Linked DNA regions of Homo sapiens. The protein of the gene in region 2 interacts with the protein of the main gene of each other region in a biochemical or structural test. Each region holds a gene or a part of one and is shown on either strand. Other genes may lie near its edges.

What was found. Proteins that work in one complex are often made in the same cells at the same time.
Region 1: the proteins of YBX3 (region 2) and TJP1 form a complex in vitro, tested with the Homo sapiens proteins (one study listed by BioGRID).
Region 3: the proteins of YBX3 (region 2) and SYMPK form a complex in vitro, tested with the Homo sapiens proteins (one study listed by BioGRID).

The regions. Positions count from the first base shown.
Region 1 is NC_000015.10:29,714,449-29,721,471, reverse strand, and holds part of TJP1 (tight junction protein 1), read left to right. Parts: intron 1-763; coding exon 764-1,114; intron 1,115-1,455; coding exon 1,456-1,695; intron 1,696-2,333; coding exon 2,334-3,206; intron 3,207-3,353; coding exon 3,354-3,451; intron 3,452-4,633; coding exon 4,634-4,861; intron 4,862-7,023. UniProt on the Homo sapiens protein: TJP1, TJP2, and TJP3 are closely related scaffolding proteins that link tight junction (TJ) transmembrane proteins such as claudins, junctional adhesion molecules, and occludin to the actin cytoskeleton.
Region 2 is NC_000012.12:10,720,309-10,728,276, forward strand, and holds the start of YBX3 (Y-box-binding protein 3), read right to left. Parts: upstream 2,804-7,968; coding exon 2,542-2,803; intron 1-2,541. Other genes in the region: uncharacterized protein LOC124902876, read left to right, coding at 2,802-3,352, 4,729-4,798. UniProt on the Homo sapiens protein: Binds to the GM-CSF promoter. Seems to act as a repressor. Also binds to full-length mRNA and to short RNA sequences containing the consensus site 5'-UCCAUCA-3'. May have a role in translation repression.
Region 3 is NC_000019.10:45,825,128-45,832,150, forward strand, and holds part of SYMPK (symplekin), read right to left. Parts: intron 6,462-7,023; coding exon 6,257-6,461; intron 5,078-6,256; coding exon 4,927-5,077; intron 4,079-4,926; coding exon 3,843-4,078; intron 2,792-3,842; coding exon 2,710-2,791; intron 2,497-2,709; coding exon 2,383-2,496; intron 1,247-2,382; coding exon 1,099-1,246; intron 205-1,098; coding exon 44-204; intron 1-43. UniProt on the Homo sapiens protein: Scaffold protein that functions as a component of a multimolecular complex involved in histone mRNA 3'-end processing. Specific component of the tight junction (TJ) plaque, but might not be an exclusively junctional component. May have a house-keeping rule.

The sequences.
Region 1 (7,023 bases), on a different chromosome or scaffold from region 2:
TTCTGCTTCTGGGGAGGCCTCAGGCAACTTACAATCGTGGCGGAAGGGGAAGGAAGCATGTCTTATATGGCTGGAGCAGGAGGAAGAGAGTTGGGGAGGTGCTGCACACTTAAAAAAACAGATCTTGGGAGAATTCTATCACAAGACTGTGTGAGGGAGATGGTGCTAAACCATTAGAAACCACCCCCATGATCCAGTCACCTCCCACCAGGCCCCTCCCCCAACACTGGGGATTACAATTCAACATGAGATTTGGGTGGGAACACAAATCCAAACCATATCAGTTGTTTCCTAAACATAAATATATTAGCTCTTATTCAACTTTTGAACTGTTGGGTTTATTTCATAGGTATTCTTCCATGTGCTATTCTGTCAGTGTGTCCTTGTTTCTGTGAGCTTAGTTTGGTAACATTCTCCCTCTTCCCCTTGCTTAAAAGGGCTGAAGAGCTAGTGAGTAGGTTTTATAAATCTGAGCAGTGTCAGAGTTTCTTCGTTGTCTTCCAGGGCTGGGCCCTGGAGTCTAACTTTGTCCTGGCTTACCGGCCACTGTTTCCTTCATCCATGCCCTTCAGATCTCAAGGGGTGCTCCATGTGTCTGCGTGTGTGCTTGTACAATCTTCTTGACTTTTCCTTACCAGAAGTTTCAAGAAGTAGATGTGACTTCTCCAGAGAAAGATATCCTTTTCAATCTGCCTTGTACGATAAAGGCCATCTCTTAAAGAACTACTGAATAAAATTTGTAATTTACTTTTATTTGACCCAGGCGGATGGTGCTACAAGTGATGACCTTGATTTGCATGATGATCGTCTGTCCTACCTGTCAGCTCCAGGTAGTGAATACTCAATGTATAGCACGGACAGTAGACACACTTCTGACTATGAAGACACAGACACAGAAGGCGGGGCCTACACTGATCAAGAACTAGATGAAACTCTTAATGATGAGGTTGGGACTCCACCGGAGTCTGCCATTACACGGTCCTCTGAGCCTGTAAGAGAGGACTCCTCTGGAATGCATCATGAAAACCAAACATATCCTCCTTACTCACCACAAGCGCAGCCACAACCAATTCATAGAATAGACTCCCCTGGATTTAAGCCAGCCTCTCAACAGGTAAGCAGCAAGCATTCAACGTTTTGTAGATAGAGGTGCATTATTAAATTTTAGAATGTGGTGATTGAGTTAAAAATATATATGTTGTCCTTTCTCCAGATTAAGAATTAATCTTCAATTTCAATTTGAGAGTACCAAGGGCTTAATTCTAAATTTTGTGTGTTTGTCTTAACACAGCAATGTACTGGATTTTTTTTTTTTCCCAAAAAGTTTAGGACATGAGGTCATAATTTTGTTATTCAGCACACTTAAAATGTATGTCTACCAATCACTATAAATTGAAGTGGAAAGTTAGCAGTAAACAGAAACACTATATTTAAAATATTTTAAACACTTCACAGAAAGCAGAAGCTTCATCTCCAGTCCCTTACCTTTCGCCTGAAACAAACCCAGCATCATCAACCTCTGCTGTTAATCATAATGTAAATTTAACTAATGTCAGACTGGAGGAGCCCACCCCAGCTCCTTCCACCTCTTACTCACCACAAGCTGATTCTTTAAGAACACCAAGTACTGAGGCAGCTCACATAATGCTAAGAGATCAAGAACCATCATTGTCGTCGCATGTAGATCCAACAAAGGTACCTGTGCTGCGGTGTTGCACTAATTTGTTGCTGTCCATCAATCTGGCACATGATCATTTTTGCTTTGCCCTTTAAGTGTTCCTTTTGCTTTTTTACTGCAGGCTTATACACTGTAATGCTTTCAAATCAATACAAATCATTTCAGTTTCGTAGTTTGCATGGCTTCCATTGGTATACTGATTATTTGAAAACAGGCCTTTTAATTGAGATTTGTGCTTATTATTTTTATTTTTGGCTTTCAGTATCTTCCAGAATTCCTTAATATGTAATCGAAACCCATCATAAACATATTTATGTTAATACAAATTATGATGCCCATAAATCTTCTTTAGGATTTTTCAGTGTCAAAATGAAGTGTAATCAATAGTGCATTAATTTTCTACTAAATTTAATATTTATCTTTAACTCACTGTTTATTTAGTACATGCTGAAACATAAAAGCCCCTACCTGCATTATAAATTTTGAGCTTTCACTTAAACCAGCTTTTTCCACTAATCTTGTCTATCCTGATAATAAATGGTAAAACATACCATTTTCACATATTAAATCGTAGTTTAATATTTAATCACAGTCTAATAAAATAGACTAGAATTAGAAACAAGACTTTGTCCTTAAATGTGAATTTTTTATACAGGTGTATAGAAAGGATCCATATCCCGAGGAAATGATGAGGCAGAACCATGTTTTGAAACAGCCAGCCGTTAGTCACCCAGGGCACAGGCCAGACAAAGAGCCTAATCTGACCTATGAACCCCAACTCCCATACGTAGAGAAACAAGCCAGCAGAGACCTCGAGCAGCCCACATACAGATACGAGTCCTCAAGCTATACGGACCAGTTTTCTCGAAACTATGAACATCGTCTGCGATACGAAGATCGCGTCCCCATGTATGAAGAACAGTGGTCATATTATGATGACAAACAGCCCTACCCATCTCGGCCACCTTTTGATAATCAGCACTCTCAAGACCTTGACTCCAGACAGCATCCCGAAGAGTCCTCAGAACGAGGGTACTTTCCACGTTTTGAAGAGCCAGCCCCTCTGTCTTACGACAGCAGACCACGTTACGAACAGGCACCTAGAGCATCCGCCCTGCGGCACGAAGAGCAGCCAGCTCCTGGGTATGACACACATGGTAGACTCAGACCGGAAGCCCAGCCCCACCCTTCAGCAGGGCCCAAGCCTGCAGAGTCCAAGCAGTATTTTGAGCAATATTCACGCAGTTACGAGCAAGTACCACCCCAAGGATTTACCTCTAGAGCAGGTCATTTTGAGCCTCTCCATGGTGCTGCAGCTGTCCCTCCGCTGATACCTTCATCTCAGCATAAGCCAGAAGCTCTGCCTTCAAACACCAAACCACTGCCTCCACCCCCAACTCAAACCGAAGAAGAGGAAGATCCAGCAATGAAGCCACAGTCTGTACTCACCAGAGTTAAGATGTTTGAAAACAAAAGATCTGCATCCTTAGAGACCAAGAAGGATGTAAATGACACTGGCAGTTTTAAGGTAAATATGTCTTTAGTGCCTTGGATGCATGGGCACACCGTTTAAAAGGCTTCTTGGCTCTCCCCTCCGCCATTACATGATATCTATTCTGTTAATTATCTGTTCCTTAGGCATATTTGTCTTTTTTTTTTTTTTTTTTTTAAACAGCCTCCAGAAGTAGCATCTAAACCTTCAGGTGCTCCCATCATTGGTCCCAAACCCACTTCTCAGAATCAATTCAGTGAACATGACAAAACTCTGTACAGGTGAGTACACTTTGTGCTCTTTGTGGCATAGAACTGACCAGGAATTTAACCCTCTTAGTCAATAAGAAAACCTTTTACTGTGTTAGTAGAGGAGAGGTGTGAATAGGAGGAGTTTGTCCTTAAATAAAAACTATCAGCTCTCCTAAACAGTGATTCTAGGGGGAAAAAAAGTAGAACTTTATTTCTGACAAATCTGACAAATCTTTATACCTTTAGCAGACTTTCGGAAAGATATTCTCCAAGCAGATGATTAAATAAACATTTTTAAGCTCTGACATTTGTATTATGTTTTTTAGTTTTAAAAGTGCTTTTCGACATGTGAACTCTTAGTTTCCAGTGGTGAGGAAACAGACTCAGATTGGTTAAGATAACTAAATCATTTAGTGAGCATGCATAAGGTGCTTGCCCTTGTGCTAAGCACATCAGCATAATGAGGTGACACTGTTGTTGTTCTGCATTGTAGAGAGAGACACTGAGGCTGAGAGGGGCAAGTAGCTTACAAGACTTAGAGCTGGAAGAGAAACCTGGCCTGCTGCTCCTCAGCCTGAGCTTTTTCCCATGGCCTCATTGCACTGCCAATAAGTGACAGATTAGATTTGAATACAGCTCTTCTGATTTTGTTTTTTGACTGAATATATGTTTGCACTTAGGATAAAGAAGAGAACTGTCTAATATGAATTTACTTAATGACTTGCTTTCTTCCTCATCTGCTTTGTATGCCTTCTAGAACTTTAGACCATATAGAGTTATTTGTTCATATGAGAATCATTGAGATCCTGGACTGAGTTCTTAAAAATCCCTTTGAAAGTTCTTAAAGTCTATCATTTACTGTTCTTGACCTTGGTATATGTACTTCTCAAGATGTTCACTGTCTCGGTTACATTGCCCTTTGTCTTTCTGATTAACTACTTCTAACCTGCTGTTCCCTAATCATGTAATCGTTTAGCTTATTATATTGTGTTAAAGGACTCATGAGCCAGAAGGGGGCTGCCTTTTGAGTATACTCTGTGAGGACATGGGATTTGAAATATCCATTTTAACTGTTGGGACTGCTCAGATCCTCAGTAATCACAGCAGTTAGTAATTATTGACCTTTTAGTCAAGATAAGACTTACATATTCTACTTCCTTCATAACATTAATATTTAAAAAGGTGTTCCGTTTGTCATTCATTATCTGTTAGGATCCCAGAACCTCAAAAACCTCAACTGAAGCCACCTGAAGATATTGTTCGGTCCAATCATTATGACCCTGAAGAAGATGAAGAATATTATCGAAAACAGCTGTCATACTTTGACCGAAGAAGTTTTGAGAATAAGCCTCCTGCACACATTGCCGCCAGCCATCTCTCCGAGCCTGCAAAGCCAGCGCATTCTCAGAATCAATCAAATTTTTCTAGTTATTCTTCAAAGTAAGCTATTTCACCTGGCTTTTAAAAATAGGATGCAGCATATTAATCCCGTGCAGTTCAATATATTTTGAAGAAAAATAATTTAAGTGTAATATATGATTTCTGTAGGCTCTAGTGGTTCAGCATTGTACATACTTTTTAGTTCTGGGATGTGTGTTTTGTTTTTAAAGTCTGCTATTAGATGTACATAGTTTTTGCATTCACAAAGATGCTAACATCACAGGGTTTTGACGGAAGACAGTGTCAACCACAAGGACCCTCATCGATAGGTAATCATCAGTCTTCACTTCTGTACACACACCTAATGATGTCATGCTGGTTCTTTTTCTTTTCTGTTTTTATTTTTTAAATATAAATACAGATGTGAGGAGGATCCTGTTTGAGGGAAATACTGAAGAGGTTTTTTGTTTTTTGTTTTTGTAAGATTTCTGATCCAGTTTTACAGGTGAGGGAAAATGACAGGGCAGAGCTGGGACTGAACCCCAAGTTTCTTGACTCCCAGTCATCTTTTCCCTGTGCTTGCTGCTCCCCTCCGTTTACTCATCCCTGGGTTTCGTGTTGGTTTGTTCTCCTTTCTTGTGCCTGCGTGGGTTTGTGTCTCCTACTGGTTCTGTGTCTCTGGTTGAACCCTGACTGATAAGAGAATTTGGTACTGATAGTTGTGTCTAAGCCCACACGGGCACACAGGTAGATTCATACCTCAATAGAACAAAACCCACAAGAACAAAAACAGATGTGGATTTGTCAAAAGAAATTCATTTACACAGTTACAGGGGCTGGCTAAGCAAGTCCTATTTCAGAGGGCAGTTGGTCAGGAAGGGAAGATTTTGAGCTACTGGGGAGTGTGAGATCAGGGAAGGCCTAAATTCTCATTCAGAGGGCTCTGCTGATTAGGCCAGGCCCTCCCAAGACCATCTCCCCTCAACTGACTTGGGGACATTACACCTGAAAAATCCCTTCATGGCAGTACCTAGCCAGATTGACATATTAGAATTCATCACACATAGTATTGTGTCTATATTAAAAGCACCTAGATTTTTCCTTACTTAGTTGCGTGGGCTTGGGATTATCTTGGGAAATGACCTATTTGTCATTTACTATTGAGTGTAAATTGTTTTAGAACATACTTTAAAACCACTAACATTAAAACCTAATTTTAATTACCACTGCTTTTTTCTAAGACATCCTTTGTAGTGAAGACTTTTTTCACTGTCCTATATTTAAGGCTTTATGTTTACAGAAGAAAGCAGTTTATGAGAATCCAAATGCAAACTGAGAGTGCTGCAGTGGGGGTTGTATTAAATGCAAAACGTGTCTTGTACTAGTGTTGTGAACCACCCCTTAGCACAACACTAGAAAGGGGTTGTGGCATCTAGATGGTGTCTGGACTGAAGTGAGCTAGCACAATATAAACCCACACAGGTGCACAGCTGGGTTCATACCTCAACAGAACAAAACCCACAAGAACAAAAACAGATGTGGATTTGTCATTAGGAATTCATTTACATTTACAGTGTTACAGGAATTCATTTACACAGTTATCACAGTAACATCTAAATGGTGACTAGCCTAAAGTGAGCTAGGCACTGAGCCATAGGAGCTCACCTTTGGTAAGGCAGAAGGGTGTACCCTTTAGTTATTATTTTTACTAAACACCGTTAAACACATTCATTCCTGTCAGAAGAAGGCTCAGGTGTTTAGTTTAAAGATATCTCTTATTTATCGTTTTACATATTTGGTAAATAGAATACAACCTTAAAAAGATTATATGGCCAGGCGCAGTGGCTCGTGCCTGTAATCCCAGCACTTTGGGAGACCAAGGCAGGCTGATCATGAGGTCAGGAGATCGAGACCATCCTGGCTAACACGATGAAACCCCATCTCTACTAAAAATACAAAAAAATCAGCGGGGCGTGGTGGCGGGCTCCTATAGTCCCAGCTACTCGGGAGACTGAGGCAGGAGAATGGCGTGAACCCGGGAGACAGAGCTTGCAGTGAGCCGAGATCGTGCCACTGGACTCCAGCTTGGGCAACAGAGTGAGACTCTGTCTCAAAAAAAAAAAAAAAAAAAAAGGCTGGGCGCAGTGGCTCACGCCTGTACTCCCAGCACTTTGGGAGGCCGAGGTGGGTGGATCATGAGGTCAGGAGATCGAGACCATCCT
Region 2 (7,968 bases):
CTAGACTGATACACTTGGGAAAATACTTTAGCTCTCTTTGTTGGGGGAAAGAAAATCCAAAACAAAAAAAACATGTCTTTATATCTCCAAAGTTATGCAGTCTACACTGATGAGGCATTCTCCAGCTTTAATTCCAAAGATCTCTCATCTCTCCAAAGGAGAGATCAAACCCAGGCCATCTTACGTTTGAGGCCACTCTGATTGGAGCAGCAAGGCAAAGGAGAAAAAAACAGTTGATGTTTTCGATGCAAATGTACACAGTAGAGGCCTGTTTTTGATACATTATATGCATTTAAGTCAGGCAATATTCCAAATAATATGCGTTTAGTGCCTCTTTTCATTTGCCCAAAAAATTAATTACCTGGGAAAATATAAAGACTGGAACTGTTTTTAATATCTAGCATTGTTGAAGGAATAATCTTGATTAAAATGACAATACTAATAATAAAGGAAAAAGATGATAAATAATTCTCAGGTCTAACCTCAATCCAAGCTGAAGGTTATTTTTACTCTCCAATGTAGTTTAAAAAAGTTTCGTAATTCCGCAAATACTTCTCCAAGGACTTCTTATGATCAAATTCATTCCCACGTCTTGCTTTAAACCATAAACCCACTTCATATACACTAAGGGGAAGGGTTGGGGAGGAAGACCATAGATTTCCATAACATTTATCAGAAGGAAAATTTTTTTGCACTCATGAAAACTATTTTTCCTGGCCTATGTGCTTATAAACTCAAGTGAAGGCCCATTTGCAAATACTAGAACATATCCATTTTAGTCAGCATTGTGCCTAGTACATCTTAGGCATCTATGTGTTTGCTTGGCAAAGGAAAGGGGATGGCAGGACACACTAGACAGAGACAAACAGTGTTGAGGTGTCACGTAGAAAGGGCTGTCCTTCATTTTTAGAGAGACGCAGTAAGAGTGGAAAGATAAAAGGCATCAGACTCATCACCAGGGATCTGCAGAGGCAGTTGCTTGAGGAAATTAACCTTCATTTATCTGTTTCCTTCATCTTTAAAGATAGTATCTGCTTTCCCAATCTCAGAACAGTACAGGATTAAGTGAAAAACCGCAAAAGCTTTCTACAAAATAAGGTATCATTAACAATGTTATCCTAACACTGCTTTGGAGAACACAAGGTTTTCTCTCTCAGACATCTGGCAGAAAGTGTTCCAAGAAATATTTGCTAGAAACAACATCACAATGTACTACTGACTAGATTTAAGCAACTTTTAGTCCAGCAAAATCAGGCCTATTTTGTTTCTTAACCTACACAGGTTACAATTAGCATGTTGTTTGGTAGGGACTTAGTAAAAGCCCTAGAAAAAAAAAACAAGAAAATAGTCCTCTCAAGGTGGGGAATATTGAATACACTTCTCTCACATTGCTCCCTCAACTTTCTTCCCAAAGGGGAAGTAGGGCTCAGAGAGATGAGACAAACATGCCCCACCCCAAATAGTGAAGAGGTCTCCGAAGCATCCTACACCATCTGTTAACGTTCCTGTTTATAAGAGCGAACGATATGGACACACACCCTTTAGGGAGGTTATTCACCACCCACCTGCTTTGCAAGCGTTTAAGAACTCACACAGGGGCGTTACTTACGAAAAGAACGCTTGTTATGTGACTAAACCAACAACCATCACAGAAACCCTTTCCATCCACTGCCCCCCCAAATCTCAACATTTCATCTTCCTGTTTCCCTTCCTACGTTACAAGTGCCAAGGTAACAATGTTTTGAACTAACGTCATACCCCCACTTCCGACAAAGTTTTTTCAGCTGCTACACCACGTGCGTTCCCACAGTCCGGGAAGAGGGAAGCGTGTAGCCATTGGTGGACACTGAATGGCTGTTTGCAGCCGTGGGCACAGAGAGGGGGAGGAAGACGTGGGACTAAGACCCAAGTTTCCCGGAGACGATTGCAACATCTCTTTGCTGGCATGTGGCCAACAGGAGCATGGCGTCTTTCCCATGCCCATGTGGGAAGGGCGTCAGGGACAGACACCTGACCCTTCCTGGCAAGAAGCTTTTCTATCTTTCCCTCCCCGTCTCCTTCTAGCGCCCTCCTCTTCCCCAAAGGAAATGCTCTCCTTTCCCAGATCCCAAGCAAGGACCCCAAAGCGCCAGGCCCACGTGTCGGTCCTTCCCCTACATCCATCCCTACCCAAGGTCCCCTCTCCCAGACTGCCTCTCCTTTCTTCTCCAAACGCAGGCATTTTCCACCACGCGAATCCGCAACAGTGCCCGTCTGGGAGACAGAAGTTAAGACCTAAACTTTCTGGCCCGGAACCAGAAGGGAGATGCACACGGCCGCCAGGAGCGCAGGGCGCAGCGCGCTCACCTGGGAGCGCCGGCAAGGGAGGCGGCCAGCGCTGGGGACCCGGAGACCCCTGGGGACCCGGAGATCCCTGGGGACCCTGTGCTGTCAGCGTCTCCAGCCCGGGTGGGAGATGTAGCGCGAGCTGCCCACACGTGCTCCGCGGCCGGCTGGGCCCGCCCCACTACGGCAGCCCCTGCCCTCCCTGGCCTGACTCACCGAGAACTTTTTTCTCCGCGTCTTCGCTGCCGGCGGCGGTGGCTAAAGAGGCGGCGGCCGCGGTGCCCGTGGCTGCGGGGGCCGCGTCCCCACCGGGGTTTCCTGCGACGTGGGCGGCGGGCGCCGGGGCCGCGGCCTGGGGCGCACCGCTGCCCACCGGGCTCTTGGGCGCGGGGTCCTGGGGAGCCGCGGCGGCCGCCTCCGTCGGAGCCTGCGGGAGGGTGGTGGTGGTGGTGGTGGTGGCCTCGCCCGCCTCACTCATGCCTCCTCCTCCTCTGCTCTCGCTCAGGCGCCTCGGTGGCGGTTGGTCGGCGGTTAGCGCGGCTGGTGGTCGCGGCGGCCGGGGCTCGCTCTCGGGGAGGCCGGGGCGGATCTCGCGGCGCAGGCGGCGGCGGCCGAGGTGGGGTCGCGCGGCGGAGGCGGCTCGAGCTTCGTGCTGCGCGCTCTCTCTTGGGCTCCTCGCTCGATCTTACTGCCCCAAAAATGGCCCCGCACAAGTTTTTCTAGGCGGCGCACCGGCCCGGGAGGGAAGGGCGGGCGAGGGGAGAGGGTGGGGAAACTTGGCTCGGGAGTCGGGCCCTGGACTCTCATTAGCATTTAAAGGCGCCCGGTGCGCTTTCTATGGCTCCAATCCGCCGGGACGCGAGCGCGCGGGTCGCGTTGCAGAACCAAGGAAAGCCAGGGTGAACGGGGCGCCCGGGTTGTCTTCTGGAGCGTTCCGAGGAGCCCGCGCTGCTGACCCTTTGTTGGAGCGGGGTGCATTGGCTCTCCTCCCTCAACCCGTCTTGACACCCGCAGCTGACAAGGAGAGGTAAAATAGGGCACCCAAACTACTCTGCGCTTTACCCTCTCAAACACTTGTTTTTAAATCCTTTGCATCTAGTCAGTCATTCAACATGTATCAAGCACCAGCAGCTATTCGTAGCACAGCTGTTAAGACCTGGAATAATAAAACCTTAAGACTATTTGGCAACTTACTCCTGAAAGGTAATATACGGATAATTTCATCTGTAACACGCAGATGAGGAAATTGACCTCACAGATTTAATGTAAATTCAGAGTTTACACCAATTTAACCGCAACAAATAAGGAGCTGTCAATATATATTTAATAAGGAACACACACAAAAAAAGCTGAATAAATCCACTTCCTACCTTCTGCTCCAGTTGCCTCTGCCAGCTGGTGAAAGCTTAAGGAACTGAGCCCTCTTAGCCTCGAGGATGAGAGGTATAGAGAAACAGATCACCCAATAAACATTATTCCCAAGTTGAAGAGCCCACATGCCCTTTGAGAATGGGCTGGATGGTAGTAAACACAGGGCCAGAGGGTCTGGGATCTGTACCCAAAGACTGTCTGGAATACAGGACTATTTGGCCCCTAGGGTTCAGACAGACTAGGTATAAATTCTGGCTTTGTTTTTTATTAACCAGGTTAACTTGGGACAGAGATTCAATGTCCCAGAGTCGGTTTCCTGCTTTATGAGAGGTTCTCAAAGGTGACATGAAAAGTAGATGAGATTATCATGTGTCACTCCAGTGTCCGGTCCACCTAAAGCTCCTTTGTTTTGTTTGTTTTTTAAGTTATTGCCTGTTCCCTCAAACAATTTACCAAATTTTTTTCCAGGAATATGTCTGTAATGTCGATGTCTACCTTAACATCAGTAGGGTAACTATCAAGTGTAATTCATCTTTGTATCTCCACTGGTTAGTACAGTACGTAGCACAGAGTTTGGACATAGTGAATGTTTACAAAATGAAAACAGACCAAATTCTTCCAAACTCAATTACTTATCTGCACATTTGCTATCAATTATTATGAAACTTTCCTGAATTCTTACTTTCTTATTTCATCCACAAAAAACACAAAGAAAATAAGTTATTTGAAAAAATAGCAAATTATGTAATTTTGAGCTTTTCTATGTAATTCATCAATATTTAAAAAATTACAAACTCTTAAATGTTAGATTCATATTTTAGTTTGACTTCAGTATGGAGCATACAGTGATGTTATATAAATGTAGATGCTTTTAAAATGCTGGTCTAATTCTAAGAATGATTAAATTATTTCTTCATGTGAAAGATTATGGTCTTAATTACAATTAAATTATAAACATGATTTATTCTGGTGAGGACTGACCATTGACTTTCTTATTCAGCAAAATGATTATCATTGCTATTTACCTTTCAGAATTACATTACAAGAAAAAAAAGTAAGGAGATTGAACTCTTCAAACCGATCCAACAGTAAAGCCTTTTAAAAAAATTCATCCTTGGAAGTAATTCATAACTAACAGGTGTGATCTCCAACCTCTGGAAGACCCTAAAATAATTACAGATGCACCCTGGGATTTCCTAGAATTTGTGCTGGACTGGCTTCCAAAACTACTCATCATTGTCATCCAAACAAAGCAGTGAGCAGCTGGAAGTTGTTGGTATTGTACTAAATAAATCTAAAGAAAATTAGAACAAATATGATCTATGTTTTAATAATCATAAGTAGGAAGCAACTTGGATACAGATACACATAAATTTATCCATTCCTTCATTCACTAATTCATACACTCATATTTGCTAAGCAAATGCTATGTCCCGGACAAAGTACACCATTGTGAGTATCCAATGTTGACCAAAATGGAGCCGGTTGTAAGGTCTTTTGATATGATGTTAAAATTATTTTTCACTATCAACATTTCTATTGTAAGACAATATCATCATTTACTAAGTTTAAGAGTAAGTCAACAAAGAATTATAATCTAATTGCTGACAGCAGTCATTTTTAAGCAATTATTGGTTTGATCATAAAAACAAATGCCACTCTGTTCCTAGTATGGAGGAAGTTAAAGCTCTCACAACTGTTGGAAGGGCTGAAGGAGGGAAACTCAGAGAAGCTCCACTGAAGATCTCAGCCTCCAGTCCCCAAGACAGTGGTTCTCAGGAGTTCTCCTGAAGCCACTGGAGCCACAAGATCTTTCGGAAGTTCTCAGCAATTCAGGGCTGGATTCAGGTTTTGTGATGCTTAAAACTAATACAATTTAGAGAGCCCTTTTTGAGATAAAATAAAGTTATGAATACTAAAATGCTAGGACTGCTCCCAGAGTCTTCGAAAGGGTCCGTGCAAGACAGGAGCCCTGAAATTTAAACTTCATTAGCTTTACTCCTGCACCTGCTATCTCAGTCAGCAACACCGATGCAGTAAGTCCTCAAGAAGTTCATCTGGAAGCAGCTTTGATGCCGATGCATCTTTCTATAACTGACTCTGGTATATAATGGTCTTCTCTTCTTCCTTCTAAACTTTGAGCGAAAGGCTCTCATTGTTAGATTCCAACTTGGAAATATACAGGCCGGGAGGGAGATTCTGGGAAATGTAGTCTCTGCATTTGAAGAAGCTAAAGTTGATGCTAAATTGACAGGAGGCTATCCAGCATATCACCCTAAGGAAGAAAATGCAATTAATTGACTAAGGAGATTGAGGAGAATTCAAGTTATTCAAGGGACTGGAGCTTAAAATAAGGAAGCTTTGTGTATTAGCATATTTGAAACTGGAAAACAGTGAAGTATTAATCTCAACTTAATTGATACAAAAAAGAACATGAGGGAAATGGTCAGTTTGGAACAAAAAAGTGCAAGAATAAGAGAGTAAAGGTATTTCAGGATGTCTCCAGCAATGTTCAGGGGGAGAGTGGACCTTGGTTATCACGCTCTGTTTGGCACTCAGTAGTAATGCATTCAGCACATTTATTAATCATTGCAATTTGGTGCTAAGAACATCATGCAAAACAGGCAGGAATGCCCCTGTATTGAATGAATTAATGGTATAGACCCATACTGTCCCATTGGAAATATAATTTGAGCCCCAAATGTGAACCAAATATTTAATTTTAAATTTTCAAGCAGCCACAATAAAACAGTAAAAAACAGATGAAATTAATTTTAATAGATTTTACCTAACTTAATCAATATAAAATATATATTATTTCCACATTTAATCAAGGGTAAAACCATGAATGATGTATTCTACATTCCTCTTTTTTTTTTTTTTTGGTACTATCTTCAAAGTGTGTATCTTACACTTCTAAGACATCTCAATTTGAACTCACATTTAAAGAGTTCGGTGTGGCTGATGACTACCATATTGAGTAGCACAAGCCTTCTAGACAATTAGAAGTTTAACCTGAATAATTCTTCAGGATTCCATTGGGAAAAAGTCCTGGGCCTGAAAGCTGGACCATACATCAGTCTGTGGCTACCCAGCAAGATAATGCTACCTGTTGGGCTGGTTTGAGCTTCCTTTGTGACATATAATATCCAAAGAATTTACATGAACCATAATGCCATAATTCTGAATAACTCTATAATGATGTCACTGATGATCTCTAGGGCATGTAAACAAAGTGAATTTACAATATCCATTCCCTGTCACCACTGCCTTTATGGACTATGCTTCTTCTTTAACTTTCACATATATTGGCCTACCATAATGAAGATGTATTATAGGATTTCTTCCTTTTCATTAAGAGAACTGAGAATATGGTGGGGAATTGGCTGTGACTTTACTCTCCCCTATGGGAAGCTGGATTTAGAGTTCAGAAAATGTTGCACCTCTAGACCTGAAATTATTAAGCAGGAGGAAAAAAAAAAACAAGCGATTACTGAGAAGTTTTGAAAAACCTGATTATTTCAGCATATATTGATTTTATATAAAAGTTCCAGCTTCTAAGTGACTTTGTTGCATTTGTTTTGCTTCTACTTATTTTCTTAACTATTTAGATGTGTTCTTAGTGTTTAAAGACTAGGAGATTGGTACAGTTTTGGTGGAAGAACTTGACAAGATTATCTGATAAGTAAGAACTAGAAAGAAATGTATCCATCTCAACCCCACTCATTTTAAAAACAAGGAATTGCAGTTCAGAGATTAACTGACTTTCTCGAACTAATTTATGTATTTAGTGGCAAAGCTAGAACCAAAACCTGAGTCTCCTTATACCCAATTCAGCGCCCTTGCCACCATAAAATTCTGATTGACAAAATGTCAATGCTGTAGCATTGAGTCCCCTCAAAAATAAAGCAAGGCAGCACTTTGGGAGGCCGAGGCGGGTGGGTCACTTGAGCCCAGGAGTTCAGGACCAGCCTGGACAGCATAGCAAAACCCCGTCTCTACAACAAACAAACAAAACAAAAACCAGCAAAAATTAGCTGTGCTGGACATGGTGGTGCATGCCTGTAGTCCCAGCTACTCAGGGCTACTCAGGAGGCTGAGGTGGGAGGATCACTTGAGCCCGGGAGGTCGAGGCTGCAGTGAACCATGATCATGCCACTGTGCTCTAGCCTGGGTGACAGAGTGAGATCCTGTCTTAAGAAAAGAAATAAAGCAAGGCTCTCTGGCCACTGAAGGTAATGTTCAGATCTTTCCAATTAGGACCTCTGGAGA
Region 3 (7,023 bases), on a different chromosome or scaffold from region 2:
TTGCCCGTGGGTGGGCAGGGCCTGGTGGGCTCAGGGGCCTCACCGGCTGCTCAATGACCCTCAGCACCGTCCGCTTGATGTCGGCGATGGCTTCAGTGTACACGGCCGCCAGTTCGTGGATCAGCTTGTGGTTCTGAGGCAGGAGGGCCAGGTAGAGGTACAGACACTGCTTCACTGTCTCCTCCGTCCAGGGTGCTGCCACCTCTGACAGGGCAGGAGCGGGCATCAGATTGGCCCACACTCTTCTCCAACCCCCTCGGACCCTCAGGAATGTCCCTTCTTGGGCAGTGGAGCCGGGGAGGGCAGAGAAGGGAGCCGGGGCTGGGGAGCTAATTGTTCTAGGGCAGGGAAATGGCGGGGACCAGGACTTCCCACCTCCAGCCTCCCGTGACTGCCAACACACAAGGCAACTAGAAGGATCTTTCTAAAGTGCGATCCTGACCCTGTCCCTCTCTGGCTCCAATCCCAGCCATGCCTGCCCTGTGGCCTCAGAATAAACCCCCAGCTCCCTGCCTCACACTGTCTGCCAGGTGTTGTATGGGGTGGCCCCGGCCCGCTGCTGCTCTGCTGCCCTCCATGTTGGTCACATACCCATTCTAACAGTCCCGAGGGCCCTGGTCTCTTTGCCTTTGCATCCACCCTCCTCTTTGCCTGGTCCACGGCACCTGCTCAGCTTCTGGGCCTCCCGAAGGCTGTGCATCTCCTGGGAATGCTTCCTGGCACCTGGGCCAGGCCTCCCGTGCTGCCCTATCATGGCCCAAGCCTTCCCATTTAATGGTCCATTTACTCGGGGTCTGAGTCTACCTGTCTGTAATCCAGGGCTCTGCTGAGGGAACCTGCCTGAGATGGCCCTGCCTGGTCCTTCCTCAGGCCCCACCGATGGCTGGCTCTCCTCGTCCTCCAGATCTCTCTCCCTGACCCCCCAGGCTGGGCCAGATGCCCCCTACCCTGACTCCCACAGCCCCCAGGTGGCTGTCCCAGTCCTGCCCATTCCCGTCACTCGTGTCCGAGTGGCTTCCCCACTCATCCCCTCTGCTCGCAGGGCCCAGAGCGCGGACACAGCAGCGCTCAGTATGCATCTGATGACCTGTGCCCAACCTGTGTCCTTGTCAGCTCCAAACAGCACAGACGGTGGGTTGGGGTGCACCAGGAGCTGCAGGTAGTTGAGGGCAAATTTCTCCACATACTCCCGCAGCTGCTCCTTCTCATACATGCGTTTGATGAACAGCAGGGCCTGGGAGCGCACCTGAGGAGGAAGATGGAGAAGGGCAGGGTCAGGGAAGAGGTAAGAGGAAGAACAGCTATTCCTGCGAGCATGGCAACACTCACGTGAAAACAAGCCCGAGGCTGAGAAGGGGCAGCCCAGCTGTTACCAGGGCCCAGGGCTGGTCCCCAGTGCAGGAGGCAGATATCCTGGCCAGGGCCGGACCCGCAGCACCACCTCACTGCCTGCCTCTCCAGCCCATCTGCCCATCACTGCTTCTTGCCTTGCTCACTAAGCTCCAAGCAGAGGGAGAGCTCCTCAGTTCCTTAAAAGTGCCACTCCCTGCCAAGTCTCCCTAGAACGTCTACTGCCAGCTAAACCCTGTTTCACTCAGATATCATCTGCCAGGAGCCGTGAGGGAAGGGTCTGGTCCTGGGCACTCTGACCCCAGCAGCAGCACATGGCCATGGCCAGGGCCAGGGCCAGGGGTGTGAGATGAAGGTCTGCTGAATGAATGAAAACGCTACCCAGCAAGGGCTGGGGCAAAAGGCTGCAGGCAACGATGGGTCAAGGGCGCTCTCAACCACAGCACGTGCACATCTGTCCCCTCTGTCTAGAGCACACCCAGCTACTGATTTTCCAGGTCTCAGCGTACAAGTCCCCTCCTTGAAAGAAGCCTTCCTTGAAACACCTCCCCTGCCCACCCCACAACCAGATGGTCGGCCCCTCCCTCCCCAGGGCAGCCACACACTGCTCTGCTCAGCTGCTGAGCACGCTGTGTCCTCACTGCTGGCTGAGGCCACACCGGCTCCCCTGCTGGGCTGGGCAATGCCCTCAGGCCCCGGCACAGGACTGGGCTGCACGAGGAGCCTGTGCTGGCCACCACGGGTGGACTAAGAGCGAGAGTGGGACTGCCCTTCCCAGGAGGGCAAGCGCACGTGTGTGTGTGTACACACTACAGGCAGACTCAGGCACGGTAACCCTGGTTTCTAGGCAGCTTGATGCCACTGAAAATGAAAATAAAACAGACAGAAATAGCCAAAAAACCACTGAAAGAAGGGAATGGGCCCAGAGAAACTTGCAAGGGAGTGTGGAAGACGTGGGCTGGTTACTCAGGATAGAGGCGGCCTCTGCAAGCTGCAGGCTGAGGGCAGCCAGGAAGTGGAGGAGGGGATCACCTTGTCCTTCTCATGGGAGCTGAGGTCGAGGAGGACATGCAGGTACTGGAACTGGCGGGACGGGCGCTTGAAGATCAGGTCTCGAAGTGTGGACATGCCCAGATAGGTGCGACTCTGCAGCAAAAGGAAAGGGACCCGAGCTCAGCCCACCTGAGTGTGCCTCTGGGCTCTGTCTTTCCTGCCTGCCTCTGATCAGGTACCTGGACAAAAGGGCCCGGTCCCTCACAAAACCCCCGGCCACAAGGTTTAGACTGTGTGCCCTTCAGACCCCTCAGGGCAGGGCCCTGTCCCCTGCCCCGGGCTGCACTGACCAGGGCCTGTCCTCACCTCATCCTCGCAGTACTTGCGGACCACCTCCAGGGCACTCTCTGTGATGAGTGGCGCCTCCAGCACAACCTTGGTGAAGATCCTGCCAGAGATGGAGGGAGGGCCATGGCTGCAGAGGAAGAGGCCGCCTGGCTCCCGGGCCCTGCTGAATTGTAGGAGCTCAGGGCCAGCAGGCCCTCCCTCAGGGGCTGCTTGTTCAAGCCCCTGCTTATAAAGCTTTGGAGGTGAACAGAACAGGGTTCAAAAGCTGGCGGCTGGATGATCTGGGCAGAGACTGCACCTCTCTGAAACTCATTTCTTCCGTTTGTCAAACAGGGATTCCTAACTTTATTCACTGAACATAAGAACGGGAGGGAATGATGGCGGGTGGAGAAGGGTGTGGGTATTTTAGATATGGTGGCCTCAAAAGGCCGCTTTGAAGTTACAGTTGAGTACACTGGTGGATGAGAAGGAGCCACCCACACATAGAGTTGAGGGAAGAGCATTCCAGGTGGACAGAACAGGAAGCACCAGCGCCCTGAATTTGACATGTTCGAGGAACAGACAGAAGGCCAATGTGGCTAATGTTCGGGGGGTAAAGCCAAAGAGATTGGGTCACATAAGGCCTCACTGGTCACAGTAAGGAGGCTGTGTTTTATCCCAAGACCAATGGAGAACCATGGAAGGTTCCTTGTGGGGAAGTAATAAAAGGATTTATATAATAAAATGTTCCTGGAGCTGCTGTGTGGAGGATAGACGAGTAAGCTGGAGGCCACGGATAGGGAGGAAGCTACAGAACCAACTCAGGTAGTGAATGGGGTGTAGAGAAGTCTATCTCCAGGCCCATGGGTGAGCACTGTTATTTACAGATGGGAAAATGGCAGAGAGAGGGAGTGACAAAGCCACGCAGAGCAAGCTCAGAGCAAGTGGCAGAGCTGAGGAACAGCTCAGGGAGTGCGACCTGGAGCCCACATGCAAAACTACAACCTTGAACGTGCCTCCAGAGGGGGAGGAGGAGAGGAGACTTGGGATGGGTGCGAGGAGGACTGACTCGGGGGGTGACGAAGAGGGAGGTGGTCGCAATCAGAAAGGGAGGGCAGCACCAGGAGAGGAAGCCTCTCGGGGACAGGAGGGTGCAGGGTCAGCCCCCTCACCCATCCTTCTGGTCTGGTTTCTCCTGCAGGCCAGACAACAGGCGGATGAGGCAGTCCTCATACTTGTCCAGGGAGCCCGAGGCACCTGCGGCCAGGTAGGCGTTGTACTCCTGGTAGAGCCAGGCGAAGGCCAGGTCCAGGCGGGCCCGCACATCCTCCAGGATGAAGGACAGGACCTCCGCCTTCAGGCCCGAGTTGAACTGTGTCACCAGGCTGGCCAGGATCTTTATGCGGACCTGGTGGGAGGGTGAGCCAGCATGTCAGTGTAGGGTGGGCAATCCAGGGACTCCGCAATCGTGCCCTGCGACTTCTCCCACCCAGACGCAGGAACTCTCAGAGCAGACAAGGAGTGAAGCGAGGAAGGCCAGCCGAGGACCCTTATGCCTAGGAAGGTCCCGTTTGTGTGTTGGGGGGTGGGGGTACCAGGGTGGGGATCGATCATCACAGAATAAAAATGAGTTTCTAGGAGCAGCACCCATGTACTTAAGTGCACAGAAAAAGATCCTCAAAGATTCCCCTCATTTGTGCCTTTGTCACCTTTGAAGAGAGGGATGGGGTGCAGGTGATGGCCACGGAAGAGTACTGGATCTGGATTCCCCGGAAATATTTTTCAGCTCAGGGAGTATGTTCCTATACTACTGGCTAATCAACAATTAACTTCACAGAATGGGGAAAAAGTCACTTTTCCCCATTCTTTGAAGGTAACAGTGCCAGCAAGTGGCAGAATCAGGACAGAGAACCAGGTATATTTCTAAAGCTAAATAGTAACAGTAAGAACGTTAACAACCGTGAAGAACCAAGACCACAAGAGCAGCCCTCACTTGCAGAGGCCTCCCAGCACCTGCCCTGTGCACCTGAGTGCCTGTGCTCATTGCACATTTCCTCCTCGTCACCCAGGAGGAGCTGCTGCTACTGTCTCTGTTTTATGGAGGATGGGAGTGATCTGGAGAAGCGGCTGTGGGCAGCAGAGCTGGGGTCCGCAGCCAGGGAGGTTTGACGCCAGGGCCAGACTCTTCGCTGGATGTGAGGTAGACGTTTGGGTAGAGGGACTGGAAGGATGGGGTGGGGGGTGGCAGGCGCACACCTGGGCTGCCCCGCTGCAGGCCACAGCCTTCTCAGCCCGCAGGATCCGCTTCACAGCGCCCAGCTTCATGGCTTCCACCTGGGCATCGGTAAGGGGCTTCAGCACGTCGCTGAGACGGAAAATTTTCTTGCGCCCACCAGCGCCTGCCAGCCTGTGTGGAAGAGCAGTGACAGAGATGCAGTGACCCAGACTGCAGCAAAGGCCTGTCTGGTGACTCTCCCAACTTCAAGGACTAGGTAGGCAACAGAGATGGCCCCCATCCCCCTGCTGCCTCTCCAGTTCCTCTGTGTCTCTGAGGCACGGTGTGGCGGTGGGTAAGAGGAAGGAAGAGGATGTTATTTTGGTTTTGCAGAGGGCGTCTTACGGAAGGCTTCTGTGAGTGGGGATCTGAACGGAGGCAGGGACAAGATACACAAATGTCTGGGGGACCAGCTCTCCAGGCAAAGGCCCTTAGGTGGGAACAGACTTGTGGGCACGAGTGGAGGAGGGGTGAGGGTAGCAGAAGAGAGCTCGGAGGGTAGCAGATCCCGCTCAGCTGTGTTAGTAAGACTTGGGGCTGGGCACGGTGGCTCACGCCTGTAATCCCAACACTTTGGGAGGCTGAGGCAGGCGGATCACGAGGTCAGGAGATCGAGACCATCCTGGTTAACACGGTGAAACCCCGTCTCTACTAAAAATACAAAAAATTAGCCAGGCGTGGTGGCGGGCGCCTGTAGTCCCAGCTAATCGGGAGGCTGAGGCAGGAGAATGGCATGAACTCGGGAGGCGGAGCTTGCAGTGAGCTGAGATCGCGCCACTGCACTCCAGCCTGGGAGACAGAGTGAGACTCCGACTCAAAAAAAAATAATAAATAAATAAATAATAAAAAGACTTGGGTGGCCGGGACTGGCTGGATTTTGTGGTGTGTAAGGGAGGTAATAATGGGGACAATGATGATGACAGCCAGTAGCATTTACTACACAACAGGAACCACGCGAAATGCTTGACAATCACAATCACTTTTCACTCGAGTATCTAGTTACCTAACCATCACCATTACCACGAACTAATTTAATTCTTCTTTGATCCTTATGAGAAAGATACTATCATTATCCTAATTTTAGACATAAAAAAGGATTTTTTTTTTTTTTTTTTACAGGAAAGAGAACAGCAAAGGCTTAGTGGTTATGGCACTGACTCGGGAGTCAGAGAGAACCTATTCCAGACTTCCTTCTGTCTGCATCTCAGTTACACACACACACGCACACGCACACGCACACGCACACGAGCTGAGAACCAGACCTTCAGGGTAGGGCTCCTGTCCTGCCCTAGCACCCAGAAGAGGACTCACCGGGGCTGAGTGACAGGGATAATGGGCTCTGGCCTCCTCTTGGCCTGCGGTGCCTCTTCCTCCAGGGGGGACATGGAGCTCAGGGAACCCACCACCGAGATGGCTTGGCCCTGGGCTGACAGGCGCCGCTTGATCAGGACGCTCTCTGTCTTCACCACCTTCTCCTCCTTGGGCTCCTCCTTGCACTGTTTGGTCTGCTCTACACCTGAGGGGGAGGCAGCAAACAGACACCCAGTGCGTCAGACCCACCTGCTCCAACCCGAGGACCTCCTGTGTGCCTGGCTCTGTTCTGAGCCCTGTACACACAAAACCTCGTTTAAATCCACACAACACTGTCCTGGAGTGGGTACTCTTTTTATCCCCACTTTTCAATACAACTGAGGCTCAAACTAGAAATGCCATTCATTGCTGGGGGGAGCAGCAAATGCTACAGCCACTTTGGAAACATGATGAGCAGTTTTTGTTTTTTAGACTGGGTGTCACTCTGTCACCCAGGCTGGAGTACGGTGGTGCAATCAGGGCTCACTGCAGTCTTGACCTCCTGGGCTCAAGCAATCCTCCTGCCTCAGCCTCTCAGCCTCCCAACTAGCTGGGACTACAGGCGCATGCCAACATACCTAGCTAATTTTTGTATTTTTTTGTAGAGATGAGGTCTCCATATGTTGCCCAGCTTAGTCTTGAACTCCTGGGCTCAAGCGATCCTCCCGCCTTGGACTTCCAAAGTGCTGGGATTACAGGTATGAGCCACTGTGCCCAGCCCTCAGCTG